7 linked regions of the Homo sapiens genome follow. The protein of the gene in region 1 purifies or fractionates together with the protein of each later gene. This does not show direct contact. Each region holds a gene or a part of one and is shown in the gene's direction. Other genes may lie near its edges.

Region 1 (3,493 bases):
TGCCAGGGGATAGATCAGCCTCCTTTGGCTGCCTTCAAACTATTTCTCGTGGGGGTTCTCCCCTTCTATTTTTGGTATTTCTGCCCATGCCTTAAGAATTAATCCCAAGAAGCCAGAGCAGTGAGGCACAGTGGGAGGCTTCCGGGGTGCAGGATGGCTGGCCGGTGCTCAGGCACCCTAGACATGCCCATGAGCTGTTGGTTGCAGGTTCTGGCTCAAAGCCCTCAGAGATTCTTTCTGCATGGCTGCTCACCTGTGTTGATGATGGTTGTGGGAGAGTAGGGCCACATGTGTGTCTGACCCCTCTAGGAAGTGATCTGCCCCCTTTGTCTCCATCCACCAGGCAGGGCTGGCTACCTAGGGGCCAGGACAGACTTCACCCAGGAGCTACCCCAGGACTGGTTCTTGCCACTCACTGTGTCCCTCTATTCACTTACTTGCCTCTCTGGCTGTGCACTCATCTCTCTGGTTTCTATTTTAGATACCAGTCAATCAGAGACTCCAGTGAGCACCTACTATGTTCAAGGCATTATGCTAGGCACTGTACAGGGCATAAAAAGGTGTAAGACATTGTTCCTGCCCTCAAGGAGCTTACAGTTAGGATGTTAGGGTTATTTGCGTATAAGAAGATAATTAGAGTTACCAGGCAGTATGTTTTAAACATGAATGACTTTAGCTTCTTGTTGGAAAATGCCTGCTTCTGTGGGCATTGACTTTCCATACAGAGACCTAACAGTAGGGGGTCGAAATGGCCACAATCAGTGAATCTCCTGGTCCAAGTTTAGAGACGCCAGTGAAATGGTTGGTACAAATCCCTTGTGGAGCGAGTGAGGCAGTGAGTATGAGAGCTTCCAGAATGGGTTGTCTAGCCAGCTCTTAGTGAATAGAGTTTAAAAGGAGGTGACAACTGCTGAATTTTTCCAATTATTCACTTCACATTTCTTTCATTTCTTTTTAGAAGTTTGCACGGCTACAGAGTATCTTCCCAGATTTTTCTAAAGCTGGCATGGAACGAGCTTTTCTCCCAGTTACCTCCCCAAATAAGCATTTAGGGCTAGTGACTCCTCACAAGACAGAACTGGTATGAGCAGGATTTCTGCAGGTTCTTCTTCCTGAAGCTGAGGCTCAGGGGTGTGCCTGTCTGTTACACTGGAGGAGAGAAGAATGAGCCTACGCTGAAGATGGCATCCTGTGAAGTCCTTCACCTCACTGAAAACATCTGGAAGGGGATCCCACCCCATTTTCTGTGGGCAGGCCTCGAAAACCATCACATGACCACATAGCATGAGGCCACTGCTGCTTCTCCATGGCCACCTTTTCAGCGATGTATGCAGCTATCTGGTCAACCTCCTGGACATTTTTTCAGTCATATAAAAGCTATGGTGAGATGCAGCTGGAAAAGGGTCTTGGGAAATATGAATGCCCCCAGCTGGCCCGTGACAGACTCCTGAGGACAGCTGTCCTCTTCTGCATCTTGGGGACATCTCTTTGAATTTTCTGTGTTTTGCTGTACCAGCCCAGATGTTTTACGTCTGGGAGAAATTGACAGATCAAGCTGTGAGACAGTGGGAAATATTTAGCAAATAATTTCCTGGTGTGAAGGTCCTGCTATTACTAAGGAGTAATCTGTGTACAAAGAAATAACAAGTCGATGAACTATTCCCCAGCAGGGTCTTTTCATCTGGGAAAGACATCCATAAAGAAGCAATAAAGAAGAGTGCCACATTTATTTTTATATCTATATGTACTTGTCAAAGAAGGTTTGTGTTTTTCTGCTTTTGAAATCTGTATCTGTAGTGAGATAGCATTGTGAACTGACAGGCAGCCTGGACATAGAGAGGGAGAAGAAGTCAGAGAGGGTGACAAGATAGAGAGCTATTTAATGGCCGGCTGGAAATGCTGGGCTGACGGTGCAGTCTGGGTGCTCGCCCACTTGTCCCACTATCTGGGTGCATGATCTTGAGCAAGTTCCTTCTGGTGTCTGCTTTCTCCATTGTAAACCACAAGGCTGTTGCATGGGCTAATGAAGATCATATACGTGAAAATTATTTGAAAACATATAAAGCACTATACAGATTCGAAACTCCATTGAGTCATTATCCTTGCTATGATGATGGTGTTTTGGGGATGAGAGGGTGCTATCCATTTCTCATGTTTTCCATTGTTTGAAACAAAGAAGGTTACCAAGAAGCCTTTCCTGTAGCCTTCTGTAGGAATTCTTTTGGGGAAGTGAGGAAGCCAGGTCCACGGTCTGTTCTTGAAGCAGTAGCCTAACACACTCCAAGATATGGACACACGGGAGCCGCTGGCAGAAGGGACTTCACGAAGTGTTGCATGGATGTTTTAGCCATTGTTGGCTTTCCCTTATCAAACTTGGGCCCTTCCCTTCTTGGTTTCCAAAGGCATTTTATTGCTTGAGTTATATGTTCACTGTCCCCCTAATATTAGGGAGTAAAACGGATACCAAGTTGATTTAGTGTTTTTACCTCTGTCTTGGCTTTCATGTTATTAAACGTATGCATGTGAAGAAAGGGTGTTTTTCTGTTTTATATTCAACTCATAAGACTTTGGGATAGGAAAAATGAGTAATGGTTACTAGGCTTAATACCTGGGTGATTACATAATCTGTACAATGAACCCCCATGATGTAAGTTTACCTATGTAACAAACCTGCACTTATACCCATGAACTTAAAATGAAAGTTAAAAATAAAAAACATATACAAATAAAAAAATCCCGACTTTGGGATGAGTGCTAGGATGTTGTAAACCAGTTTGAGAATCAGAATCCAAAATGAGAGCTGAAAGATTGGCTGAGTCTTTCTCGGAGGGAGGGCATGCTGGCAGACAGAGCTTTGTAAACAGCATCCTCCTTCCCAGAGATGCTTCTGCTTCCATCCTGGGGCCACGTTGCTACCCAGTACATGAGCAGCTCATACTAACATGCACGGTCATGGGTGGGCGGGATGGAGGGAGGGTTTCTGCTTCAGAAAGATGTGTAACATCAGGGGCTTTGTGCCTGGATTCATGGGTTTCACTCAAGATTCTCAAATAGGTCCCTTCCCCCCAAAATGTTAAGAACGATGTGGTCTAAGTAGTTGTAATAGTTATAAAAGCATCAGGCCAGGCACGGTGACTCATGCCTGTAATCCCAGCACTTTGGGAGGCCGAGGCAGGCGGATAACGAGGTCAGGAGATCGAGACCATCCTGGCTGACACGGTGAAACCCCGTGTCTACTAAAAATACAAAAAATTAGCCGGGCGTGGTGGCGGGTGCCTGTAGTCCCAGCTACTCAGGAGGCTGAGACAGGAGAATGGCATGAACCCTGGAGGCAGAGCTTGCAGTGAGCCGTGATTGTGCCACTGCACTGCAGCCTGGGCGACAGAGCAAGACTCCGTCTCAAAAAAAAAAAAAGCATCATAAGTGGAAGTCTCTTTACAAAGATGAATACACATAAAATGTCTCTAAAAGCTGTGGAATCACTTTCAATGGA
Region 2 (4,358 bases), on another chromosome or scaffold:
GACAGCCTGGGCAACATAGACCCTGTCTCTACCAAAGAAAAAAATTTGTTTTTAATTTAAATAAATGCGAGATTACTATTGTATGTTTCCTTTTTATTATACTTGTTTTACTTTGGAAAATTTTACTGTGTTTAAGACATAATAAGACCATATTTGGAATCTGCTCATTAATAAATTATAATTGTTGGCATATAAACTGTTCAAATTTACCTAGCAATATAAAGATTTCAGGTACAGTGTATACTTGCCCTAGTAAGCAGTACTTTCAAACTCTTCAATAAACAAAACAAAACTTTGCATCATTTATTTATACATAAACCATAAACCAAGTACATACCATTCTTAATTGAAATAAGTCCAAATTCCTCTACTTACCAATTCTGCTTGATATTTGAAAGTTAAAATGTTTCTTCTAAAATGTTCTAAAATTCACATTTTTAAAATTTTGGACTTACTGAAACTTAGTAAGGTTTTACTGTGAATACTTTCAAAACTGTAAACAGAAAAACATATATAGCTATATAATAACTTTTAAATAACAAGTCTATTTTTAAATTACTAATTTAAAGGTTTTTTTTCTCCCTTTTGCTAGCCAGTCTCAGTTGGAGGGCTGATAGTAAACCTTATTGGTATCTGTGCCTTTAGCCATGCCCATAGCCATGCCCATGGAGCTTCTCAAGGAAGCTGTCACTCATCTGATCACAGCCATTCACACCATATGCATGGACACAGTGACCATGGGCATGGTCACAGCCACGGATCTGCGGGTGGAGGCATGAATGCTAACATGAGGGGTGAGTCCTTGCAAAATATTATCCTACTTTTCAACTGTGTTCTAAATCAACCCTCTGTGTTTATTTGTATTAAGTTTTGGGCTTCTGGTATGATATGATTTTTAAAAAGCAATCTGTGACTAAAAGAAAGGTCTGAAGCTATCACTATAGAAAATATTCTTACCTGAATACACATAAAATTAAATATTATTCAGCCTTTAAAAAGAGGGACATTCTGGCTGGGAGCATGGTGGTTCACGCCTGTTAATCCCAGCAATTTGGGAGGCTGAGGCGGGAGTACCACCTGAGGACAGGAGTTCAAGACCAGCCTGGCCAATATGGTGAAACCCTGTGCCTACTAAAAATACAAAAATTAGCCGGACATGGTGGCAGGTGCTTGTAATCCCAGCTACTCAGGAGGCCGAGGCAGAAGAATCGCTTACAGGTGTGAGCCACCATGCCTGGCCGTCACAGAAAATTTTTTAAAAAGAAAATGAGGCTGGGAACAGTGGCTCACATCTGTAATCCTAGCACTTTGGGAGGCCAAGGTGGGTGGATCACCTGAGGTCAGGAGTTCGAGACCAGTCTCTCCAACATGGTGAAACCCTGTCTCTACTAAAAATACATAACTTAGCCAGGTGTGGTGGCAGGCGCCTGTAGTCTCAGCTACTCAGGAGGCTGAGACACGAGAATCACTTGAACCTGGGAGATGGAGGTTGCAGTGAGCCAAGATTACGCCACTTTACTCCAGCCTGGGCAACAGAGTGAGACTCTATCCAAAACAAAAAGAAAATGAAAATATATTTGTTCTTAAATGTTAGTTTTTAAATGATTATAATTATATAGTCCTTTTCATAGTGACAGCTGAATAGATATTAGTTGCAAGGTAAACACAGTGTGCTATTATGAACCTTCATTACAAAAAGGAAATTCTTACTCCTTTTTTAGAAATTTTTATTGCACTATAAAAAAAATGGAGGAAGTACTAATCATTTATTTTGCTGAATTGTTTATTCTGATTGCTTAATATAAGTAATGTGGGTAATGTCAAAACTTGCCTCAAGTATGATTTTTGGGAAGCCTTTCCAGACAAAGTACACCATAAAATTTGGCACGCTGTGTCATGAGTGCCTATGTCCTTATATTTTTACCACTGTATTCTGAATTCCTTGAGGGCAGTGACCATGTTTTAGGCATTTTGAAGTACTAGCCAGTAGCAGAGTATGTGGTGCACAGTAGGTATCCAGTAATATTAGTAGAATGTATTAAAAAACTAAATTAGATGTGCCTTAATTTTTAATGTCCTTATATATTTTATTTGTAGGTGTATTTCTACATGTTTTGGCAGATACACTTGGCAGCATTGGTGTGATCGTATCCACAGTTCTTATAGAGCAGTTTGGATGGTTCATCGCTGACCCACTCTGTTCTCTTTTTATTGCTATATTAATATTTCTCAGTGTTGTTCCACTGATTAAAGATGCCTGCCAGGTTCTACTCCTGAGATTGCCACCAGAATATGAAAAAGAACTACATATTGCTTTAGAAAAGGTACTGTATGTAATTTCTTCACTACTTTCTTCCTTGAAAATCACATTTTTGAAGTCTTTGCTGGAAGTAAAACAGACAACCAAATAAATAATAAAACAAAACGAGGCCAAAAAAGAAATATAAAGTAGCATTTAAAATTTAATAAGTTGACCTAACAAGAAATATGCAAGATATAAATGAGAAAAATACAGTTTTACTTAAAGGATATAAAACAGGGACCGAATAGATGGATGAGATTTTCTTGGATGAGAAGACTCTTTATTATAATGATGTTGATTTTATTTTATTTAGATTTCAATTTAGTTGCCTTCATTGGATATTTTTGTTTATGGTTTGGGATGTTCTAAAATTATTTGGAACTTACTTGGAAGAGTTAGCGCTTGAGAATAAGAAAACATACATAAACTTACAGAATTAATTAATAGGATCCTACTTTGCAATTATAAAGTAGCAGAATTAAGTGACAAAACTAACAGTTTAGATCGAGACCATCCTGGCTAACAAGGTGAAACCCCGTCTCTACTAAAAATACAAAAAATTAGCCGGGCGTGGTGGCGGGCACCTGTAGTCCCAGCTACTCGGGAGGCTGAGGCAGGAGAATGGCGTGAACCCGGGAGGCAGAGCTTGCAGTGAGCCGAGACCACGCCACTACACTTCAGCCTGGGTGACAGAGCGAGACTCCACCTCAAAAAAAAAAAAAAAAAACCTAACAGTTTGGTCCTTGCACAAGAATAAAGACATAAATCAACTTTTAAAAAAATAATAAGTTCCCATTCTTGTGACCTGGGATTGTTTCCTGGACAGCACAAAAAAAAAAATAGTAACAATAATAATAGGTTGTCTGTAAAAGAAGAAATAATAAAAAATGAAAATAAATGAAGAATTATGGTATGTAATGTAAAAGAAGAAATAAAAATAGGTTGTCCAGAAACAGACCCAGGAGTTTATGGAATTCAGTATATAGCAAAGATGGTATTTTAGATCACTGGGGAGAAATAGTTGACCTAAATAACCAGCTTTTGGTTAATTACTTCTTTACTTTGTGGGGAAAAAAAAGCTATATCTCTATACCATATTATATAAAAATACATTTCCAGTGGATTAAATATGTAAATGACAAAAAAATTATGAAACTACTAAATAGAGAAATATTTTTGTTTGTTTGTTTTTTGAGACAGTCTTGCTCTGTTGCCAGGCTGGAGTGGAGGGGCGCAATCCCAGCTCACTGCAACCTCCACCTCCCGGGTTCAAGCGATTCTCCTGCCTCAGCCTCCCAAGTTGCTGGGATTACAGGCCTACCACACCCAGCTAATTTTTGTATTTTAGTAGAGATGGGGTTTCGCCATGTTGGCCAGGCTGGTCTTGAACTCCTGACCTCAAGCTATCCACCCACCTTGGCCTCCCAAAGTGCTGGGATTACAGGTGTGAGCCACTGCACCCCGCCAGAAAAATATGTTTATAATCACAAAGATAGGGAAAGACTTTTTAATATACTTGAAACCAGAGGCCAAAAAGGGAGGATAAAATTTACAAATTTGACCAGTTGAAAATTGCCAGTTGGTGGAAGATTTCATTAACAAGTATAAAACATAAAAGGCAGACCAGGAAAAAACATTTGCAGCACATATAAACAGGCAAAGGTTTACTGTCCATAATTCTTTAAGTCAAGAAAAAGACAATCTTAGCTGTGCATGGTGGCTCATGCCTGTAATCCAGCACTTTGGGAGGCTGAGGTGAGCAGATCACCTGAGGCCAGGAGTTCAAGGTCAGCCTGGCCAACATGGTGAAAGTCCATCTCTACTAAAAATACAAAAATTAGGGTCGGGCACGGTGGCTCACGCCTGTAATCCCAGCACTTTGGGAGGCTGAGGCAGGCAGATCACGAGGTCAGGTGATTGAGACCATCCTGGCTAACATGATGAAACCCCATCTCTACTAAAAATATAAAAAATTAGCCGGGCATGGTGGCGGGCACCTGTAATCCAAGCTACTCAGGAGGCTGAGTCAGTAGAATCGCTTGAACCCAGGAGGTGG
Region 3 (4,358 bases), on another chromosome or scaffold:
ACCATGGCAGGCCAGGATGCCCAGTGGAACCAGGAGCCCCATTGTCTAGGGCCAGCTCTGCCGGCTTGCTCCATCACCCTGGGGCAGTCACTACCTCCCTTTCCCTCCCCATGTAGAGAATGGAGAGCTGTGTTGTCCCACCGTGTTCAGGGGTAGTCCCATCTTCTTGATCTTTCTGAGCTTTTAGGAAATCCTGGATTCCTGTGACATTATTCAAGCAAAGGAAATTAGTCTCAAAGCCAGTGATGGGAACCCAAGGAATAGTGGTCTATTCCTGTTTTCCTCACTTCCCCCTAGACCCAGATGCCTGCTGTTTGGGTTGAAAAATGAAGTAGACACTGGCAGAGAGGTGGGGAGGGCCCAGACCAGAAGCTGGAGAGGTGGTTCAGCACTGGCCCTTGGCAGTTAATTCCGGTTAGGACGGAGAGCCAGCTCCTCATGCCTCCTCCCATCCCACCTGCCCGGCCCTTCACTGAGAACCCACTGCCCGATGGGAGCCTGGGTCTCCCTGCTCCTCCTCCTGCCTGGGCACTTGCTCCAGCCACCCTGTATTGACTGCTCTCCCCAGATGGCTGTGTCCTCAGAGCTCAGACAGCGGGGCTGACCTCACGCAGCTGGCGGGGTAGAGCCAAGGTTGGAATGCAGGTTCCTGCTCTGTGCACTCCTGTCCTGGGCCCCTGCCTGACAGCCAAGCCCACCTTTGTCTGTCCCTACACAGTGTCTTCCCACGGGAGTTGAAAGAGGTGTTTGCCTCGTGGAGGCAGGAGTGCAGCAGTCGCGGCCGCCCGGACATCAGTGAGCGGCTCATCAGCGCCTCCCTCTTCCTGCGCTTCCTCTGCCCAGCCATCATGTCGCCCTCACTCTTCAACCTGCTGCAGGAGTACCCTGATGACCGCACTGCCCGCACCCTCACCCTCATCGCCAAGGTCACCCAGAACCTGGCCAACTTTGCCAAGTGAGTGCCTCCTCCCTCACCAGGCAGAGTTGGGCAGGGCTGGTGTCCACAGGGCAGGCCCTGGGGGTGTTTCTGCCCCCAAGCTGAGCAGAGACCATAAACAGGCCCTGGTTTTGTCCCTGTCATCCTCAGTCCTTCTCCTTCCCGCTTTTTAAAAAATAAAATCTCCACACCCTGTCCTTCTACTCAAGGTATATGTCATTTTGGTATGTTTCTTAATTTTTAAAGGTGACGACATGAGACATTTTTTTCCTTCTGCTTTTTTGAATTAATGTATTATTATAAGGATTCTCACATATCCCTTAACATTCATTAAGCCCTGTTTTGAAATAAATGACTAATATTCCTCCAAGGGGGACTGGCCCATATTTCCTTAATCCATTCCCTGTGCTTGGGCACTTGGGTTGGGCACCACCATCCTGGTGTCAGGCTATCAGGATGTCTTTGCTGATAAAGCACTATTGGTGTTTTTGGCTGCATCCTTAGAGCAAGTGGGCAGAAGTAGAAGGGCTGGGTCGTCTCACTGTTGTTCATTCTCAAAACATAGATTGAGCCCCATCCTGGGGCCATCTGTGTGCTGGGCTCTGACGGCACCAAGATGAATCAGTCCTGGTGGCGCTCAGCACTTCAGCCAGGGAGACGTGTGGAATGAGCAGGAGAGCAGTGATAGACACACACGAGCCTCTTAGGAGGGCTCTCAGCTTGTTGGGAGAGGAGACAGGAAAGCCTCCAGGGTGACATGATCCCCCAACTGCATGTCAGGGTGAGGCGTTCATTGTCTCAAGAGGAGCAGAGGCTGGGCATCCCAGGGAGGGCCATGCACTGTGCCAGGTCAGGAGAAGCGGGCGATGAGACCTAAGAGGACAGCAGGGACCTGAAGGCCAGACAGGGCTGTGGGAGCCACCAGAGGGTTTTAAACAAGGGAGAGGATGGCCTTCCTCTGTTCTGGATCCTGAAAAGCTCACCCTGACAGCAGTGGGCAGATGGGTTGGAGGGAGCAGGATGGTAGCCAGGAGACGTGAAAGGAGAGCATAGCTGTGGTTCCAGCAACAATAGCAGAAAATTCGCAGGGAGGGGAGCGGGTACAGGAGGCAGTGGCTGCAAGGGACAAGGTTAGGGGTGATTAGAAGGCAAAATCAGTGGGCCGTGCCATTTGGGAATGAGGAAGAGGGAGGAGTTGACAGCTGCCAGAGATTCTGTCTCAGGTGTATCTGTATGGGTAGTGGGGTCTCCACTTAGGGTAGGGAGCTCAGGAGGAGGGCATGGGTTTGGGTGTTGATGATGACTTCAGGTGTGGCAGGCTGAGTAGGAGGGACTCCCAGGGGTGGTGCCTGCAGATATATTAATACATGCCTGAAAGCTCATTGGGAGACCTGGGTTGAGCAGGGATTGAGCATCATCTGCATACCAGGGCAGTGAAACTTGGAGGAAAAGCCGAAGGACACTGTTAACAGGCAGTGTATGGGGGACACAGAACATTCCAGGTCCTGAGATAAAAGGTTCAGAAAAGGATCGCTGGACTTACCATGAGCAAGGAGGGCCCTGGTGACCTGGGTCAGAGCATATTCAGCTGACTTGGGGAGTGAATGGAGTGGGAGCCTGCCATAGTGGGGAAAGCGGGTGGTGGTGTCCCAGTGGAGGGAGTTCCTGGGCAGGGCCTGCCTGGGCCCAGTAGTGCTCACCCAACTGCCCTCTCTCCAGATTTGGCAGCAAGGAGGAATACATGTCCTTCATGAACCAGTTCCTAGAGCATGAGTGGACCAACATGCAGCGCTTCCTGCTGGAGATCTCCAACCCCGAGACCCTCTCCAATACAGCCGGCTTCGAGGGCTACATCGACCTGGGCCGCGAGCTCTCCAGCCTGCACTCACTGCTCTGGGAGGCCGTCAGCCAGCTGGAGCAGGTGCCTGTTGCCGTGGGGCGGAGGTGGGGCCAAAAGCTGCCATCAGGCTTTTAGTGTTCCCCCTTCCAGAGTAACCATGGAGGGCAGAGAGTTTGCCCAAGTGGCATGATCAGGCCAGGTCCTGTCAGAACACACTGGGGATCTGTGGGCCCCATTTTCTCTGTGGGCAAATGCTATGTTCACTCAGCAGTATCTGCCAAGGCTGCCCCACTCTGGGTACTAGAGCTGGGGTGTTCCGCATGCACTCAGCCTTTAGTGGACAAGCGCCACTGTGCTGCCTGCCAGAGCATGTGAGAAATAGAATTGGATCGTGAATCCGCCTGTATGAAGAAGATGACTCAAGACCCTGTACCTCCACTTGTCCAGCAGGAAGTCGAAAACCTTTCTAGGATTGCCCTTGACCATCAGTTGACAAGGTTACTCCCTAGACACCTCTGACACTGCTGCAGTCACCTGAAGTGAGCCCTCCCTAGCCCGAGACTTCACTGACCCCCAGCCTCAGCCCACACAGTGAGCAACTAGTTCTTGGACTTAAGGGCTGGGTCTACCAGGAACTACTTCCCGAATATCTGTTGCTTTCTAGGGCTCCAAGGGACCACCTTACTTTTGTAAGGTGCTGAAACTGGCCTGGAAGGCCCTTCATGCCTCCTGGTCCCATTCCCTAGAGGTGACCGCTCAGAGCACTGGTATGCAGCCTTCTGGACACGATCTGTGCATGTGTAAGCGCACACACACATGCAGGCGCACACACATAGAGCTCTTTTCCTTCTTCAGTTTGTTTTAAAGCAAGAACATACTGTGTATGCTGCTGTGTGCATTTCTTACCACTGTGTTGTGGGCCTCTTTGCTTGTCAGTGCAATCTCCACCACCCCCAGGGACTTTTTAATGACTGCATTGTATGAATGCTATTTATTTCACCAGTCCCCTATTGATGGACACTTAGGTTAGTCCTGACTTTTCACTAGAAATAGGTCCTGTTGCAATCAAAGGCCATCATTTTTGCTCATTTGTATCCACTTGCCTTTGGCTGTGAGAGACACAGGAGGGAGAAATGGAAATGAGGGCTGAGACCCTACATTCCACCTGTTCCAGTCCCTGCACTGCAGCCAACACTAGTCACTGTCACTGCCACCACTTACCTTTCCCCTGTGCTGTCCACGTATCTGCACAACCAGGCAGGAAGAATGGAAGGTGATCAGTATTGTCACATCGGTGATAGGGTGCAACAGGGATTTGAAACTCAACTGTTTGCCTCTCAATTGCGTGCTCTATTGCCTGCATGAGTTTTCACACTTTGTTTTCTCACAGAGACCTCTGTGGAAGCTTGTGCATAAACAGGTGAAGGCAGTGTCCCCAAAGCCTAGAATCCTCTGCCCCTTAAGTTCTCTAAAGCGTGCCAGCAAGGTTCAGATGGGTTCAGGCACTGCCTTCTGCCTGACCAGCACCTGAGGGTGCCTGCAGTGTGCTTGGACCATCTCCACTGGGGCTCAGGTGCCAAG
Region 4 (4,590 bases), on another chromosome or scaffold:
TGTAACCTGGGGAGTGCAGTAGCACCTGCCCAGTGGGGCTCTTGAGCCCAGGAACTGCTACACTCTGAACCCCACTCGTACTAGGGGCTCAGTAACAAGCAGCCGCCAGTGTGGTTCCTATATCCCGGGACTTCGCCTGTCTCCTGCGGATCACAGCCAGTGACTACTGTGCTCTTGGAGAAAGGTCCAGCCTCCAGCTTCCCAGGCTTCATTTGCATCCATCTCGCAGGCCCCAGCTCAGGCTCGTGCCCACCCACCAAGTTCCAGTGCCGCACCAGTGGCTTATGCGTGCCCCTCACCTGGCGCTGCGACAGGGACTTGGACTGCAGCGATGGCAGCGATGAGGAGGAGTGCAGTGAGTGGCCACGCCCCTTGGCGGGGCTTACAGGGGGCGGGGCCTGAGGGTGGTTTGTCAGGGGCCAGGCACGCGGAGGTGGAGCTTGTGGGAAAGGCAGGGCCGCAGGGATGGGTGCGACTTGGGTCTGTGGGTCATAAGAAGCGGGGTCTAAGATGGGCTTGGGCTGGGCGCAGTGGCTCACGCCTGCAATCCCAGCACTTTGGGAGGCTAGGGTGGGAGGATCGATCACTTGATCCTGGGAGGTTGCCGCTGCAGTGAGCTAGGATTGTGCCAGTGCACTCCAGCCTGGGCAACAGAGTAAGACTGTCTCAGGAAAAAAAAAGAAAAAGAAAAAAAAAAGAAAAATGAAAGAAAGGAAAGAAAGGAAGGAAAGAGAGAGGGAGGGAGCCAGGTACGGTGGCTCACACATGTAATCCCAGCACTTTGGGAGGCCAAGGCAGGCGGATCACTTGAGGTCAGGCGTTCGAGACCAGCCTGGCCAACACAGTGAAACCCCATCTCTACTAAAAATACAAAAGTTAGCTGGATGTGGCGGCAGGCCCCTGTAATCCCAGCTAGTCAGGAGGCTAAGGCAGGAGAATCACTTGACCCTGGGAGGCAGAGGTTTCAGTGAGTCGAGATTGCGCCACTGCACTGCAGCCTGGGCAGCAAAGGGAGACCCCGTCTCAAAAGAAAAAATAAAGAAAGAAACAAACAAACAAATAGAATAAAGTGGGCTTGTAGGAAGGTAGAGCTAGTGGGGTCTCAGGGGAAGAGCTTGCAGGGAGGCCTGTCCTTAGAAAGTGGAGTTAACAGTTGCAGGGGGCGGAGCCTTAGGAAGGGAGCATTTTTTTGGGCTCAGCTGTTCTTAGAGGGTGGGGCTTGCAGGGGATGGGGTTTCAGGGAGTACCTGGGCCTTCTTGGGTGGGCATTTGGGACCTGACCAACCCTGTGCCCCAGGGATTGAGCCATGTACCCAGAAAGGGCAATGCCCACCGCCCCCTGGCCTCCCCTGCCCCTGCACCGGCGTCAGTGACTGCTCTGGGGGAACTGACAAGAAACTGCGCAACTGCAGCCGCCTGGCCTGCCTAGCAGGCGAGCTCCGTTGCACGCTGAGCGATGACTGCATTCCACTCACGTGGCGCTGCGACGGCCACCCAGACTGTCCCGACTCCAGCGACGAGCTCGGCTGTGGTATGCACCTGCGGGGCTGGGGTGGACTCGTGGGTAGATGGGGACACCCACTGCCTGCTGGGGCGTGGCCAGGCTGGGGGCGTGGACACATGCCTTTGCCCGTGCCTGCATCCCTGTGGGGGAATCAAGACATCATTAGGGGCCGGGCCCGGTGGCTCACGCCTGTAATCCCAGCACTTTGGGAGGCTGAGGTGGGCGGATCATCTGAGGTCAGGATTTCGAGACCTGCCTGGCAAACACTGCGAAACCCCGTCTCTACTAAAAGTACAAAAAAATTTGCTGGGCATGGTGGCACACACCTGTAATCCGAGCTACTCAGGAGGCTGAGTCAGGAGAACCGCTTGAACCTGGGAGGCAGAGGTTGCAGTGAGCTGAGATTGGGCCACTGCACACCAGTCTGGGTGACAGCAAAACTCTGTCTCAAAAAAATTTAAAAAAGGCCGGGCACGGTGGCTAACGCCTGTAATCCTAGCACTTTGGGAGGCCGAGGCAGGCAGATCACCTGAGGTGAGGTGTTCGAGACCAGTCTGGCCAACATGGCGAAATCCTGTCTCTACTAAAAATACAAAAGTTAGCTAGGCGTGGTGGCGTGCACCTGTAATCCCAGCTACTCGGGAGGCTAAGACAGGATAATTGTTTGAACTCAGGAGGCAGAGGTTTCACTGAGCCAATATTGCGCCACTGCACTCCAGCCTGGGTGGCAGAGCCAGACTCCCTCTCCAAAAAAAAAAAAAAAAAAAGACATAATTACGGGCAGTCAGCTTCACCCAGCCTGGTTGGTTGAGGATAAACCCCAAGGGCTCCCCTGGGCATCTGGCCCCCTCACGCCTTCAGTGCTCTCTCCTCAACTACTGAACGCCTGGGCTTATTGCAGGAACCAATGAGATCCTCCCGGAAGGGGATGCCACAACCATGGGGCCCCCTGTGACCCTGGAGAGTGTCACCTCTCTCAGGAATGCCACAACCATGGGGCCCCCTGTGACCCTGGAGAGTGTCCCCTCTGTCGGGAATGCCACATCCTCCTCTGCCGGAGACCAGTCTGGAAGCCCAACTGCCTATGGGGTTATTGCAGCTGCTGGTAAGAGGGACTTACCCTCCCATGCTGGGGGCTTAGAGCTCCGGGGATTCAGGGGAGGTGGGTGGGGAGGGATGAGCTGCAGAACTCCCATCCCCATGTGTATGGAGCTTGGTGGGTGTGGGGGCTCTTGCCTTCCCCCTCCTTACTCCTCTGTCCATCTGTTCCCCACAGCGGTGCTCAGTGCAAGCCTGGTCACCGCCACCCTCCTCCTTTTGTCCTGGCTCCGAGCCCAGGAGCGCCTCCGCCCACTGGGGTTACTGGTGGCCATGAAGGAGTCCCTGCTGCTGTCAGAACAGAAGACCTCGCTGCCCTGAGGACAAGCACTTGCCACCACCGTCACTCAGCCCTGGGCGTAGCCGGACAGGAGGAGAGCAGTGATGCGGATGGGTACCCGGGCACACCAGCCCTCAGAGACCTGAGCTCTTCTGGCCACGTGGAACCTCGAACCCGAGCTCCTGCAGAAGTGGCCCTGGAGATTGAGGGTCCCTGGACACTCCCTATGGAGATCCGGGGAGCTAGGATGGGGAACCTGCCACAGCCAGAACTGAGGGGCTGGCCCCAGGCAGCTCCCAGGGGGTAGAACGGCCCTGTGCTTAAGACACTCCTGCTGCCCCGTCTGAGGGTGGCAATTAAAGTTGCTTCACATCCTCCGCCTGCCTCTGGGTCTCTGTCTCCCTTGGCCTGGGCAGCCTGGGGTCGCTGCTGCAGCCCCTCCTCCATGAGAGCCCAGCCCATAGAAGGTGGGACATGGACACCCAGCCCTGTGTGCAGCTACTGTGCTGCTTGCTTTTTGGGAGCAGGGGCAGCAGGGCTGGGGTGGGGAGTCTGCGTTAACATCAGGATTCTTGGAAGAAGAGCAGAGCTTGGGCAGTGCCTTCCCATTCCCAGGTCTGGGGACCCCCACCCACTGTGGCTTCCTCCTCAGTGCAGTGGAAGCCAGGTTTCCTGGGATGGTCTCAGACTCACCCTGTTTTAATTATTTTTTAATTATGTTTTTAGAGACTGCGTTTTGGCCGGGCACAGTGGCTCACACCTGTAATCCCAGCACTTTGGGAGGCCGAGAGGTGGGCGGATCACCTGAGGTCAGGAGTTCGAGACCAGCCTGGCCAATATGGTGAAACCCTGTCTCTACCAAAAATACAAAAAATTGGTTGGGTGTGGTGGCAGGCGTCTGTAATCCCAGCTACTCGGGAGGCTGAGACAGGAGAATCCCTTGAACCTGGGAGGTGGAAATTGCAGTGAGCTGAGATCACGCCATTGTACTGCAGCCTGGGTGACAGAGTGAGACTCTGTCTCAAAAAAGAAAAAAAAGGTTTTATTATTTATCCTGGGCATCATAGGGATCTCTGCAAATTTTTTTTTTTTTTTTTTTTTTTGAGACAGAGTTTCGTTCTTGTTGCTGGGATTACAGGCATGTGCCACCCCACCTGGCTAATTTTGTATTTTTAGTAGATAAGGGGTTTCTCCATGTTGGTCAGGCTGGTCTTGAACTCCCGACCTCAGGTGATCCGCCCGCCTCGGCCTCCTAAAGTGCTGGGATTACAGGCGTGAACCACTGTGCCTGGCCTATACATTTTTTTTTAACTAGCTGTGGGTGGTGGTGTGCACTTGTAGTCTCAGCTACTTGGGAGGCTGAAGTAGGAGGATTGCTTGAGCCTGGGAGGTCCAGGCTGCAGTGAGCCGTGATCAGGCCACTGCATTCCAGCCTGCGTGTCACAGCAAGACTGTCTCAAAAAACAAACAAAAACAAGTAATGTACTTGAATCATCCTGAAACCATCCCCACCCCTGGTCCGTGGAAAAATTGTCTTCCATGAAACCAGTCCCTGCTGCCAAAAAGGTTGGTGACCGGTAAAGTTAATTCACACCCTGACTTCTGGGTGACAGGGCAAAGTTCCTCCCTTATCCTCAGCTTCTGAATCTCTGAATGGGATGTTGGGGGCCACAGTAGCCTCCTTGCAGGGGAGTGACCTCCCTGGGAC
Region 5 (4,358 bases), on another chromosome or scaffold:
TTCTGATATAAAGGTTGTTTTCTGTCACATGTAGCATTCTTTTCCCCAGTCTGTTTTTTGTCTTTTAACTTTGTACATATATTTGACATGGAGAAAAGTGTGTGTGCATGTGTGTTTTAGGTAGATAGGTCTTTCCGTTTCTTTTACATTTTCTAACTCTGTTATAATTTTTATATCTTCCTTATTCCTCCAAATTATTATATATGTTAGTCTCTGCTTCCTCTTAGTATTTTTTTCTTAATTTTTTCACATATTACCCTGAATTCACCCAGTATTTTACTTCGTTATATGAGAGCTAGAGCCCTAATTATAGTTTCTTCTAAATATTTAGAGACTTGTCCAGAATTACTTATCAGATGATTATTTGATTATTCCACTGTTTTGAAATATTTTTATTATAAACTAAATTCTGCTTTATACTTGGGTATGTTTCAAAGCTTCTATTGCCCTTTCTTAACCTATTTTAGATGGCAGATGTTTGTAGGATTTCTGCCAACAATGTCAAAGGTAACATTCAGATTAGAGACATTTCAAATTCAAGAGTCTTATTGTTGAGATTGAAGATTTCCTAAAAATAACTAAAGAGTATAGCCTTGGCAAGTTAAATAGCCTTTATGGGTTAATTTTTTTTTTTTTTTTTAATGGTAAGTGCTAGTGTGGCTTGATAGGTTGGGGCCTAAGGTGAAATTGTATAAAAGCCTAGACCTGATGGTAGTGTTTCTCTTCTAGCCCTTGGGAGCCACGTTGCTGCGTGATGAAGTGATCTAAGCAGAAACCTTGCTTCATGCTCTCTTCCCTATCCCATCCACCTCATATTATTATTATTTCCCTGTGTACATAAGGTCCTAATGTTTATCATCAGGCTTTATCTTTCGACTGGAGGTGCTAGGCTAGTGTGGAAATAATTTATGTGTCCTTAAATATTAGCTACCCTCAAGTAAAACAGAGGTCCTTTTTTACCTGGAGGTGTATATGTATATGTGTGTGTGTGTGTGTGTGTGTATTCTTTCTTTGATACAGGGTCTTGCTCTGTTGCTTAGGCTGGAGTGCAATGGCACGATCTTGGCTGACTGCAACCACCGCATCCCAGGCTGAAATGATTCTCCTGCTTCAGCTTCCTAAGTAGCTCCCAAGTAGCTGGGACTACAGGCATGCCTGGCTAATTTTTGTGCTTTTTGTAGAGACAGGGTTCTGCCATGTTTCCCAGGCTGGTCTTGAACTCCTGGACTTAAGTGATCTACCTGTCTTGGCTCCCAAAGTGCTGGGATTACAGGTGTGAGCCATCATGCCTGGCCCCCTGGAGATTTTTTAAGTTTTTTTTAAAGTTAATTCTGCTTTCTACAAACGTATTTCCTTTATTTTGTTTATTGTTATTTTTTTGAGACAGTCCTCTCTGTTGCCCAGGCTGGAATGCAGTGGCTCGATCACGGCTTCACATCCCAGGCTCGAGCAATTCTCCCACCTCAGCCTCCCAAGTAGCTGGGACTACCGGTGCATGCCATCACGCCCAGCTAATTTTTGTCACCCAGGCTGGTCTCAAACTCCTGGGCTCAAGTGATCCCCCCACCTTGGCCTCCTGAAGTTCTGGGATTACGGGCGTGAGCCACTGCGCCCAACCCAAATATGCTATCTCTAATGTACAGCAACTTCAATACCTGATGCACAGTTTTTGAATGGAATTTGCATACTCATTGTGTCAGGATAACTGCGATAAACTACCCGTCAAAAACTGGTTATGTTTTTCATGTAAATTTTAGCATTTGGGATATTATTTTTAGTTAGTACGATCTTTGCCTTAAATTCATGAATACTTGGTGTTCCAAGCCTTAGTGGAATGTAAATTGAGAACGTCTTTTTTGGGTTTAGTCCTGCCAATGCCCTTGGACTGTGGTCAAACGTTCATCAGTCAGGATCATTGCTACAGGGCTACTTTCAGGGAAATGAATAAGGCAGTCCAGCAATTCAGCCCCTTTAACCTGAGCCTGGGAAGATACGGAATTAGACTATAGTGTGATAGCTTTAAAGAACAAAGTGAGGGGCAGTGTGGGGAGGGAGAGCATCAAGAAGAATAGTTAATAGATACTGGGCTTAATACCTCGGTGATGGGATGACCTGGGCAGCAAACCACCATGGCACATGTTTACCTACGTAACAAACCTGCACATCCTGCACATGTACCCCTGAACTTAAAAGTTGAAGAAAAGAAAAAGAGCAAAGTGGAAATTGCAAGATTTTAGTATTCAGTGATGGTTCTATTGATTCATTATCCCTGCCTTTCTCTCTGACATTAGTTAGTTCAGCACACCTTCATATCTATCCTAGATGTTGAAGCTATGTCTACTCGCTGGTATCTCTAGCTGCAGCCTTGTGCCCCCTCGATTTTATATTTCTTATTGTAGCCTTTATCCTTCTGGATTACTAATCTTGGATCACAGTAGCTTAAAATCTTACCATGAATCCTCATTGCCTCCGGGTTACAGTTCAAACTCCTTAATGAGACAAGCACAGCTCTGTAGGAGCTGAACCAGCAACGTTGTATTACTGGCATTTCCCCAAATGTACAATGTGCTTTCTTTGGAATTGTCTTTACTTTCTTTCTTTTTTCTTTCTCTTCCTTCTTTCCTTCCAAAAATCTTGCTTAATTAACTCCTACTCGTTCAAGTCATTTTAGACTTTAGTTCCTTATTGGGTTAGGTGCCCCTTATGGCACCCAGCCATCTCCTATTTGTTTTCTATGGTGGTGGAATCTTCTACATTCTATAGTGTAGTAAGCCCATTGTCCAGTGGGCAGAGTTTGTGTTTTCCTATAGAGCTAACTCACTATTGGTTATTTTACCTTCTGTGAGAGAATTTGTGTTAGCAAGGTTAAGCTTGCACAAGAAGGTGTGCTTTATATTGCTTATGAAGCCCATTTTGAAGCAATACCATTTTTGAAATAAGTGATACAGGTAGTAAATTGGTCATGATATACTGATTATAAACAAACAGTAATATAGTCATGAGTGATAACAATAACAAAGGTCATTAGTCACTGGAAATTGCTGGCATGGACTATGTGAAGTTAGGGACTTGCTGATATAGCAGTGAACCTAATTTTACACGAAATACTAACAAGCTTTGTGACTTGGAGCAGGGAAGATAAATTCCTAGAGTCAGATAAATTGGTTCAGCAGAACCACACAGCGGAATTATAAAAACAACACATTCTGGGGTTGTTAAGCAAGGTGAACTTTTGCCCTTGTGGAATTCATATTCTTCCTTAGAAACCTAGAGTGAAATTCTCTCTTTTTTTTTTTTTGAGACAGAGTCTCATTCTGTTGCCCAGGCTGGATGGCAGTGGTGCGATCTCGGCTTACTGCAACCTCCGCCTTCTGGGTTTGAGTGATTCTTGTGCCTCAGCCTCCCAAGCAGCTGAGACTACAAGCACGTGCCACCACACCCCGCTAATTTTTGTACTTTCAGTAGAGGTGGGGTTTCATGATGTTGGCCAGTCTGGTCTTGAACTCCTGGCCTCAAGTGATTCCCCCATCTCAGCCCAGCAAAGTGCTGGGATTACAGGCATGAGCCACTGTACCCAGCCGAGTGAAATTCTTGTGCCTCACTTGTGAGGAGCTGTATTAAGGTTGCTGCAGAGGCTGCTTCCCGCCATCTGAAGGGGAAGGAGCCCACCCTCCTTGTTTAACCTTTACCTGTCTCCAGTGGGTTTCCCTGCATCCCAGGCTTCCCTCTTGCAAAAGCCAAATTTGAAAACAGAACTGTAAAAGAAGTTATTTAAAAATGAGACAGACAGGGCGTGGTGGCTCACGCCTGTAATCCCAGCACTTTGGGAGGCCGAGGCAGGCAGATCACCTGAGGTCAGGAGTTCAAGACCAGCCTGACCAACGTGGCAAAACCCCATCTCTACTAAAAATACAAAAATTAGCTGGGTGTGGTGGCAGGCGCCTGTAATCCCAGCTACTTGGGAGGCAGAGACAGGAGAATCGCTTGAACCCAGGAGGTGGGGCTTGCAGTGAGCCAAGATTGTGCCACTGCACTCCAGTGTGGGTGACAGAGCAAGACTCTGCCTCAGAAAAAAAAGAAAAATGTTCCCACCTTGGCTTTTTTTCTTTTCTTTTTGAGATAGGGTCTCGCTCTGTTACCCAGGCTGGAGTGCAGTAGTGCGATCATGGCTCACCACAGCCTTGACCTCCCAGGCTCAAGCAGTCCTCCTACCTCAGCCTCCTGGGTAGCTGGGACTACAGGCACATGCCACCACGCCTGGCTGATTTTTGTGTTTTTTGTAGAGACGGGGTTCCGCCGTGTTGGCTAGGCTGGTCTCGAACTCCTGAGCTCAAACAATCTGCCTGCCTCGGCCTCCA
Region 6 (4,358 bases), on another chromosome or scaffold:
AAAATTCCTTCTATTCATCTTTGTTAAAGGGCAGTTCAGGTTTTAGCGTTTTGTTTTTAGACAACGATATTTCTTAGGATATAGCTCAACATGGGGCCGGGGCAAGGGGGAGGCTGGGGGACAGATGAGTGATAGGCAATGGTTAGGCAGAGTATTTTAGTTCACTCTACCATCCCAGCAATCATGTTTTTCCCTCTTAAATCTCAGTCTTCAGGTTGATTTAATGTGATATTACTTGCTTACTTAACTTGCTGAGATAGTTTGGCAGGAAAAATATCAAAATTCCTTTAGAATGTGTTTCATTAAAGTAAAAGGGTCCTGTGTTTCTGATTTTATAAAATGTTCTTACTTTTTCCAGCACTGTTTGCAAATTGAAGTGATTTCCTAATCTTTTTGTGCCCAAATGTATGAGATATTGGTAGACTACATCAGTTTTCACAGATACCTCTTTCCTTGAAGGAAATGAGGGTAAAATACCCCATTTTGAGTCAGTTATGTGTACTTTGTACCATATTTTCTGTTCACATTTAAAATTATACAGCTATGTCTCAAGGATGAAAAAAGAGTTTTACTTATTTTTACTATTAATCTCTAGTGTAGAAGTCCAGTTTTTCAGACCTATAATCAGGAGTGCATTTTTAACAATTTACCAGTTGAAATAAATGGGTTATTTCACATTGTAGGGATATTGTTTTAGACTGGCCATTAACCTTATTTTATTTTATTTTTATTTTAAAAGATGTTATTGTTATTATTTATCTATGTATTTATTTCTAGAGGCAGGGCCTCGCTCTGTGGCCCAGGCTAGGGTGCCATGGCACAATCATAGCTCACTGCAGCCTTAATCTCCTGGGCTCAAATGATCCTCTGGCCTCTCAAGTAGCTGGAACCACAGGCGCATGCCACCATGCCTAGCTACTTATTTATTAATTAATTATTATTTTTTAAATAATATTATTTTTAAGAGATGGGGTCTTGCTCTGTCACCCAGGCTGGAGTGCAGTGGCGCCATCATAACTCACTGCAGTCTCGATCTCCCAGGCTCAAGCGATCCTCCTACCTCAGCCTCCTGAGTAGCTGGGACTATAGGTGTGTGCCACCACTCCCAGCTAATTTTTAAACTTTTTGTAGAGACAGCATCGTGCTGTGCAGTGGTGCTATCTCGGCTCACTGCAACCTCCGCCTCCTGGGTTCTAGTGATTCTCTTGCTTCAGTCTCCCAAGTAGCGGGGATTACAGGTGCGCGCCACCACACTTGGTTAGTTTTTGTATTTTTGGTAGAGAAGGGGTTTTGCCATGTTGGTCAGGCTGGTATCGAACTCCTGACTGACCTCAAGTGATCCACCCTCCTCAGCCTCCCAAAGTGCTGGGATTACAGGCATGAGCCACTGTGCCAGGCCTTAAAACACCTAGTGTTAAAAATGGTGTCTTAATTGTATTCTCAGATTCTCCTAGAAAGAAAAGATATACTAAATGTATATTTAGATATACTAAAACACCTAATGTTTATTTTTGTTTATTTATTTTTGAGATGGAGTCTGGCTCTGTCACCTAGGCTGGAGTGAAATGGTCTATGTTTGTTTTTTCATCTTGACAGTAATATCTTTGAACATTTTCTGGAGTATTAGATATTATTCTCTTGATGCTTCAAGGTATCTTAACTTCACCATTGTATTGCGATATATTGTTTTGGAGAGACAGTATAATATAGGATTAAGAGTGGAGGCTAGGTGGGGCACAGTTGCTCACGCCTGTAATCCCAGCACTTTGGGAGGCCGTGGCAGGCGGATTGCTTGAGCCCAGGCGTTCGAGACCAGCCTGGGCAACATAGGGAAACCCTGTCTCTACAAAAAATACAAAAATTAGCTGAGTGTGTTGGCACGTGCCTGTAGTCCCAGCTACTCAGGAGGCTGAGGTGGAAGGATCGCTTGAGCCTGGAAGGTTGAGGCTGCAGTGAGCTGAGATCACACCACTGCACTCCACCCTGGATGAGAGAGTGACAGAGTGAGACCCTGTCTTGTCCGGAAAAAAAAAAAAAGCCTGTCTTGTCTGGCTCAGTCCAGGTGCTAGACTGTCTAGGTGGGATCCCAGCCCCTCTGCTTACTACTTGTATGACCCTGCGCAGATTTCATACTCCTCTGTGCCTCAGTTCCTTCAAATTTCTAAAATGGGGACAATAACAGTACCTGTCTCACAGGATTGTTAATGATCTAATACATGTACGGTGTCTGGCAGATAGTAAACATACAATAAAATGTAGTTACCTTTAATATTTTAATATATTATTTACTGTAAAAGTAATTTTAACATCCTATATAATAAAATTATAAATTACAGTTTTGCTGTACTATAAATTTAGTAGACTACAGGATCAATATACTAATCAATCAATACTTGCAAGCAATATTTAAATTCTTTAAAAAAATTTTTTTTGGAGACAGGGTCTTGCTCCGTAGCCCAGGCTGGAGTTGCAATGGCACGATCTCGGCTCACTGCAACCTCTGCCTCCAGGGTTCAAGCGATTCTCATGCCTCAGCCCCCCGAGTAGATGGGGTTACAGGCGTGTGCCACCACACCCGGCTAATTTATTTATTTTTAGTAGAGATGGGGTTTCGCCATGTTGGCCAGCCTGGTCTCAAACTCCTGGCCTCAGGTGATCTGTCCGCTTCAGCCTCCCAAAGTGCTGGGATTACAGGTTTGAGCTACCGCTCCCGGCCCTGCCACCACGCCCGGCACAATACTTAATTTCTAACTTACACCATAGAAAATTGGCCGGTGCGGTGGCTCACGCCTGTAATCTCAGCACTTTGGGAGGCTGAGGTGGGTAGATTGCTTGAATTCAGGAGTTCCAGACCAGCCTGGGCAACAAGGTGAAACCCCATCTCTACAAAAATTACAAAAAATAGCCAGGTGTGGTGGCATGCGCCTATAGTCCCAGCTACTGGGGAGGCTAAAGTGGGGGAATTGCTTGAGCCTGGGAGGTTGAGGCTGCAATGAGCTGAGATCATGCCACTGCAGTCCAGCCTGGGTGACAGAGTGAGACCCTGTCTCAAAAAAAAAAAAAAAAAGAAAAAAAAAGAGAAAGAAAATGGAAAACTCAGATTGAGAGGGTCCCCCAGTAGCCTATAGTACACCTACATATGCTAACATGGCATCTTAAAGCTCATTATTACAGCTGGCAAATCAAATCACTGTGATGTGCTCATCCTATTTCCCTATCAAGAAAACTCATAACAATCTGCTTCTGTAATTAGTGAGCCACAGACTCTAGGCCATCGAGATTTTCCACATTCCCTAATTGTCAAATGCTGAACCATACTTGTACTGAATAAGTTGTGATACAGTGTAAGCAAGGGAAAAGGCCTTATGTATGTCTAACCTACTCTGCAAATAGCTGCATTCTTACAAAGTTGTGTGTAAATTGAATTTTTACAAAGCATGTCAGCACTTTGATTAGTACATTTTTATTGTGTGCTTATTGCATATTCAGTGTTTCCTGTGAGCTATACAAAGAAGCATAAGGCATATGTTCCAATGTCTAGCAAGAGAAAGAAGTTTAATACCAAGCAGAGAGAAATTAGGTACTACTAAACTATGAAACTGATTCCAGGGTATTCGGAATTTAAAAAGAAAGTGGCTAGGAGTATTTGACATGATTTTTCATGAAGGAGGTGGGACTTCAGTTCATTTACTTACTCAACAGTGATTTATTGAGTAGCCACCATGTTCACTGGTGGTATGATAGTGAACAGAGCAGATATGGTCCTGTTTCTGTGGAGTTTACAGACTAGTGAAGTAATAGAACTTAAATATGTGCAAGAAAACATTCTAGGTGAGGGGACCAGTTCTAAACAAAGTCATAGAAATAAATGATAAGAGCATGGACTATATGGCAATCAGTGAAGGGACTTGCTTGATTGTAGTAGAGATTTTATGTTGGGGAGGAGCACTGCAAGTGATAGATGCAGACCATCTTTTGAATGCTTTGAAGAACTATTTAAGTCTGTCTAAAAGTCCTTTGGATACACTGTTCTGGAGAGGGTTTGGGGCTTTGGGGTCATACTGCCTTGGTTTGATCTCATCTCTACTCTAATTTGTTTAAGTTTAGAATTTTATAGTAAGTTTTCTCAGTGACACAACTCTATAGGCAACAAACTGATATTTACAGAGTGGTTGGGGTCAGTAACCCTTGTATCAGTTAAGCAATGTACACATGAAGTGCCAGTAGGAAGTCCAAGGAAAGGTTGGGAGAAATAAAAGGAGGTTAGTAAAGGAAAGAGAAATAAATACATTCTGTGATAGTTGGTAGAATGTCATCAGAAATGTCTTCAAGCAAAACAATACATTTGCCTGTCTTTT
Region 7 (4,358 bases), on another chromosome or scaffold:
CATTTATATATGGAAATACTCAGTTTTGGGTTGAAGGAACTCTTATTTGAGAGGACCTGTATTATGAACACTAGATATCCAGATAGGTTTAAGTTTTTAATTGTATTAGTTGAAAGAAACTGATCTCTTCTTATTTTATTTTATTTTACTTTATTTTATTTTAATCGTATCGAGATAGTCTTGCTCTGTCACCCAGGCTGGAGTGCAGTGGCCCAGTCTTCGGCTCACTGCAACCCCTGCTTCCCAAGTTCAAGCAATTCCCGTCTCAGCCTCCGAAGTAGCTGGAATTACCAGATGCACCACCACACCAGGCTAATTTTTTTTTTTTTTTTTTTTTGAGGGATGAGGTTTCTCCATGTTGGCCAGGCTGGTCTCAAACTCCTGGCCTCAACTGATCCTTCCACCTTGGCTCCTAAAGTGCTGGGATTACAGGTGTGAACCACCGCACCCACCCTGATCTCTAATTTTGAAATTCATCTTATTAAATAACTCTAATTGAATTGGAAAGGTAAAAGTAAAACTGCCTTCATAGGCAGACAACATGATTGTTTACGTAGAAAATCCCAAGAATGGTACAATAAAACTACTGCAGCCAGTAAATGACTTTATCAGGTTGCAGAATACAGAGTCATTGTACAAATACCATTGAATTTATAGGCTCTAGCAACAAACAATTAGGTAATTATAAAAACAGTATTTAAAATAGCATCAAAAACCATGAAATATTTAGAATAAGCCTAACAATTTATGCAAGACCTGCACACTGAAAATTATAAAACATTGCTGAAAGAAATTAATAAAGCCCTAAATAAGTGGAGATGTTTATAAATCTGAGGACTCAGTATTAAGATTTCAGTTTTCCTCAAATTGGTGTGTAATTTCATTCGAATCCAAATGAAAATCAGAGCAAACTTTTATAGCAATTGATGTATATTCTAACATTTATATGGAAATGCAAAGGACTAGAAGAGCCAAAACAATTTTGAAGTAGAAGAACAAAGAGGAATCACTACCTGATTTCTGGACTTACCGTAAAACTCAATAATGATCTCAATTTGGTACTGGCATAAGGATAGATGTATTGATGAATGGAACAGATTATGGAGTTTAGAAAGGAACATGCACTTAATATGGTTAATTGATTAAAAAAAAAAAAACAAAAAGATGCCCAAGTAATTCAATTGGAAAAAGGCAGTCCATTTAACAGATGGTGCAGGAAATATCAGGAATCCATTTACCAAGAAGTTAATCTCAGTCCTTACCTCCTCACTCTATACCAAATTAACTTGAAATGTAGCATAGACCTAAATGTAAAAGTTGAAGTATAAAACCTCTAAAAGAAAATGTCTGAAAAAATTATTCTGACCTTGGGCAGACTTCTTCAGTACATAAAAAACACAAATCATTTTTTTAATGATAAATCAGGCTTTATCAAAATTTAAAACTTCTGCTATTTAGAAGACAAGAAAATGAGAAGACAAGTCACAGATTGGCAAAACAGATCTGATACAGGGTTTTTGTGCAAAATATATAAAGACCTTTTGCAACTCAATAATAAGATAACCCAATTTTTTTAAAAAATGGACAAAAGATTTGAACAGACACTTCCCCAAAGAAGATATAAGAATGGCAAACAAGCACATGAAAAGATGCTCAGCATCAGCAGGGATATACAAATTAAACACAGTAAGATACTACTGCACATCCACTAGTATAGCTAAGACTGATAATATTAAGTGGTGCCAAAGATGTAGATCAACTAGAAATCTCATACATTGCTGGTTGGAATGCAAAATGGTATGGCTATTTTGAAAAATAGTTTGACAATTGCCTGGAAAGTTAAGGGCATACTTTCCGTACAATGAAGCAATCCTTCTGCTAATTATTTACCCAAGAGATATGAAAACTTGTCCACACCAGAGGCCTGAATGTGAATGTTTATAGCAGTTTTATTTATAATAGACATAAACTGGAAACAACCCCAAAGCTCATGAATTGCTAAATGAATAAACAAATGCTGGTACATTCATACAGTGGAATATTACTCATCAGTAAAAAGGAACAACTTCTAACACATGTAGCAGCAACAGTGGGTGAATTTCAAAAGTACTTTATGCTACATGAAAGAAGCCAGACACAAAAGGCTACACAAAAGTGATTCTCCTGCCTCAGCCTCCCAAGTAGCTGGGATTAAGGCATGCACCACCATGCCCAGCTAATTTTTGTATTTTTTTTTAAGTAGAGACAGGGTTTCACCATGTTGGCCAGGCTGGTCTTGAACTCCTGACCTCAGGTGATCCACCCGCCTCGGCCTCCCAAAGTGTTGGGATTACAGGCGTGAGCCACCACGCCTGGCCAAAAAGTGAGAATTTTTTTACGTTATTAAAATATTCTGTATCTTAATTGTGGTATTGGTGATTACATGATATAGATTTGTCCAAGGCTTGTTGAACTTTTCTCAAAAAGGGTACATTTTATATAAATTATACCTCAATAATCTTGACTTAAAAACTTACAGGCTGAGGCAGGCAGATCACTTGAGGTCAGGTGTTCGAGACCAGTCTGGCCAACATGGTGAAACCCTGTCTCTACTAAAAATACAAAAATTAGCTGGACGTGGTGGCAGATGCCTGTAATCCCAGCTGCTCGGGAGGCTGAGGCAGGAAATTGTTTTAACTGGGGAGGCAGAAGTTGCAGTGAGCTGAGATTGGCCGCCGCACTCCAGCCTGAGCAACGGAGCGAGACTCTGTCTCAAAAAAACAGAACAAAATTTACAAAAGGATTCTATAATAAATGATACATAAAGTCACTTTAGCTTTGCACTAAATCTAGTCCATTTTAGAAGCATTTCCAACTTGGAGCATAATGTTCTTTTTAATTTAGAATGATCACTAATGCTTCTGAAAATGAAAGATAACAATCCATGTACATCTTTTATTTAACAAATATTAAAGTACTTCTGATATTGTCCCAAATAAATACTTATATTCTGTGAGCAGGGGATGGAATTCAAGCAAATATATATGTAAATAAGAATAAAGTTATGATTGTGTTAAGCGCAGCAACTGAGAGGTTTTGTGTGCTATGAAGGTGTTTAAGTGAGAAAATAGCACTCTAAGTAAAGGGAACTGGATATTCAAAAAAACCCAGCGACAGGAATAAGCTTGAGTGAATTCTAAAAGTTGAGATAAGTCAAACGAGGTTTGTGGGTGGGTGGTCAAAGCAAATAATGGGACCAGGCCAGATCAGGCAGGGTCTTATAGATGGGATTTTTAAGATCTTTAACTGTTATTTGGACTTTGCTGCATAATAAACCACCCCAAAACTTAGTGATGTGAAGCAACAAACATTATTTCTCATTCTGTGAGTCTGTGGGGCAGTTCATTTGTTGGACTTGCTTAGCTAGAGCTAGGTGGTGTAGTTCACACCCTTGGCCGACAGTTCATGCTGCCATTATTTTTTGGTCACAGGGTTCCCAAAGCAGCAGGAAGGGGGCAAGCCCCAGTCCACAAACATTTGTCAGGTCTTTGCTTGCATCACGTTCGCTGTTGTTCTTTTATCCAAAGCAAGTCATGTGGCCTAAGCCCTGAGTCTGTGGACCAAGACTACCCACGACTGTGTGCACTGGGAGGGTAATTATTATGACCATTTTTGCAAACAGCCAGCCACTTGAATAACCTGTTTATGATTTCAGAATACATTGTACATTGTTTCATACTTTAAAGTACATTATGGCCGGGCATGGTGGCTCACGCCTGTAATCCCAGCATTATGGGAGGCCGGGGGTGGGGTGGATCACCTGAGGTCAGGAGTTCAAGACCAGCCTGGTCAACGTGGCTAAACCCCATCTCTACTAAAAATACAAAAAAATTAGCTGGGCATGGTGGCGGGTGTCTGTAATCCCAGCTACTTGGGAGGCTGAGGCAGGAGAATCACTTGAATCTAAAAGGTGAAGGTTGCAGTGAGCCGAGATCGCGCCACTGCACTCCATCCTGGGTGACAGAGCGAGACTCCATCTCAAAAAAAAAAAAGTACATTATAAGTTTTTAACTGGAGTTGGTTGGGTACACCATGCTTTTTGATGAGATGGACTACCCCTTTGCCAGTCTTAATGGGTTTCTTTCATCAAGAGCTCAAACCTTTTACTTTTTTCTATAAAGGTTCAGCGAACTATTGCCAAACAGATTCAGATGGTCCGGCAAGTTGGTAAAGGCCGATATGGAGAAGTATGGATGGGCAAATGGCGTGGCGAAAAAGTGGCGGTGAAAGTATTCTTTACCACTGAAGAAGCCAGCTGGTTTCGAGAAACAGAAATCTACCAAACTGTGCTAATGCGCCATGAAAACATACTTGGTGGG

The links.
Region 2: the proteins of CD83 (region 1) and SLC30A5 purify together in Homo sapiens (affinity purification with mass spectrometry; 2 studies listed by BioGRID and IntAct, with this or other methods). This does not show direct contact.
Region 3: the proteins of CD83 (region 1) and DAB2IP purify together in Homo sapiens (affinity purification with mass spectrometry; 2 studies listed by BioGRID and IntAct, with this or other methods). This does not show direct contact.
Region 4: the proteins of CD83 (region 1) and CD320 purify together in Homo sapiens (affinity purification with mass spectrometry; 2 studies listed by BioGRID and IntAct, with this or other methods). This does not show direct contact.
Region 5: the proteins of CD83 (region 1) and UGCG purify together in Homo sapiens (affinity purification with mass spectrometry; 2 studies listed by BioGRID and IntAct, with this or other methods). This does not show direct contact.
Region 6: the proteins of CD83 (region 1) and ATP7A purify together in Homo sapiens (affinity purification with mass spectrometry; 2 studies listed by BioGRID and IntAct, with this or other methods). This does not show direct contact.
Region 7: the proteins of CD83 (region 1) and BMPR1A purify together in Homo sapiens (affinity purification with mass spectrometry; 2 studies listed by BioGRID and IntAct, with this or other methods). This does not show direct contact.

The regions. Positions count from the first base shown.
Region 1 is NC_000006.12:14,134,150-14,137,642, forward strand, and holds the end of CD83 (CD83 antigen isoform a precursor), read left to right. Parts: intron 1-958; coding exon 959-1,087; 3' UTR 1,088-2,757; downstream 2,758-3,493. UniProt on the Homo sapiens protein: Transmembrane glycoprotein predominantly found on the surface of many immune cells including dendritic cells or lymphocytes that plays various roles in immune response regulation.
Region 2 is NC_000005.10:69,121,102-69,125,459, forward strand, and holds part of SLC30A5 (proton-coupled zinc antiporter SLC30A5), read left to right. Parts: intron 1-592; coding exon 593-794; intron 795-2,097; coding exon 2,098-2,324; intron 2,325-4,358. UniProt on the Homo sapiens protein: Together with SLC30A6 forms a functional proton-coupled zinc ion antiporter mediating zinc entry into the lumen of organelles along the secretory pathway.
Region 3 is NC_000009.12:121,765,776-121,770,133, forward strand, and holds part of DAB2IP (disabled homolog 2-interacting protein), read left to right. Parts: intron 1-718; coding exon 719-955; intron 956-2,656; coding exon 2,657-2,858; intron 2,859-4,358. UniProt on the Homo sapiens protein: Functions as a scaffold protein implicated in the regulation of a large spectrum of both general and specialized signaling pathways.
Region 4 is NC_000019.10:8,300,796-8,305,385, reverse strand, and holds the end of CD320 (CD320 antigen isoform 1 precursor), read left to right. Parts: intron 1-229; coding exon 230-355; intron 356-1,297; coding exon 1,298-1,531; intron 1,532-2,405; coding exon 2,406-2,609; intron 2,610-2,780; coding exon 2,781-2,923; 3' UTR 2,924-3,259; downstream 3,260-4,590. UniProt on the Homo sapiens protein: Receptor for transcobalamin saturated with cobalamin (TCbl). Plays an important role in cobalamin uptake. Plasma membrane protein that is expressed on follicular dendritic cells (FDC) and mediates interaction with germinal center B cells.
Region 5 is NC_000009.12:111,899,498-111,903,855, forward strand, and holds part of UGCG (ceramide glucosyltransferase), read left to right. Parts: intron 1-4,358. UniProt on the Homo sapiens protein: Participates in the initial step of the glucosylceramide-based glycosphingolipid/GSL synthetic pathway at the cytosolic surface of the Golgi.
Region 6 is NC_000023.11:77,913,305-77,917,662, forward strand, and holds part of ATP7A (copper-transporting ATPase 1), read left to right. Parts: intron 1-4,358. UniProt on the Homo sapiens protein: ATP-driven copper (Cu(+)) ion pump that plays an important role in intracellular copper ion homeostasis.
Region 7 is NC_000010.11:86,912,974-86,917,331, forward strand, and holds part of BMPR1A (bone morphogenetic protein receptor type-1A isoform 3 precursor), read left to right. Parts: intron 1-4,160; coding exon 4,161-4,353; intron 4,354-4,358. UniProt on the Homo sapiens protein: On ligand binding, forms a receptor complex consisting of two type II and two type I transmembrane serine/threonine kinases.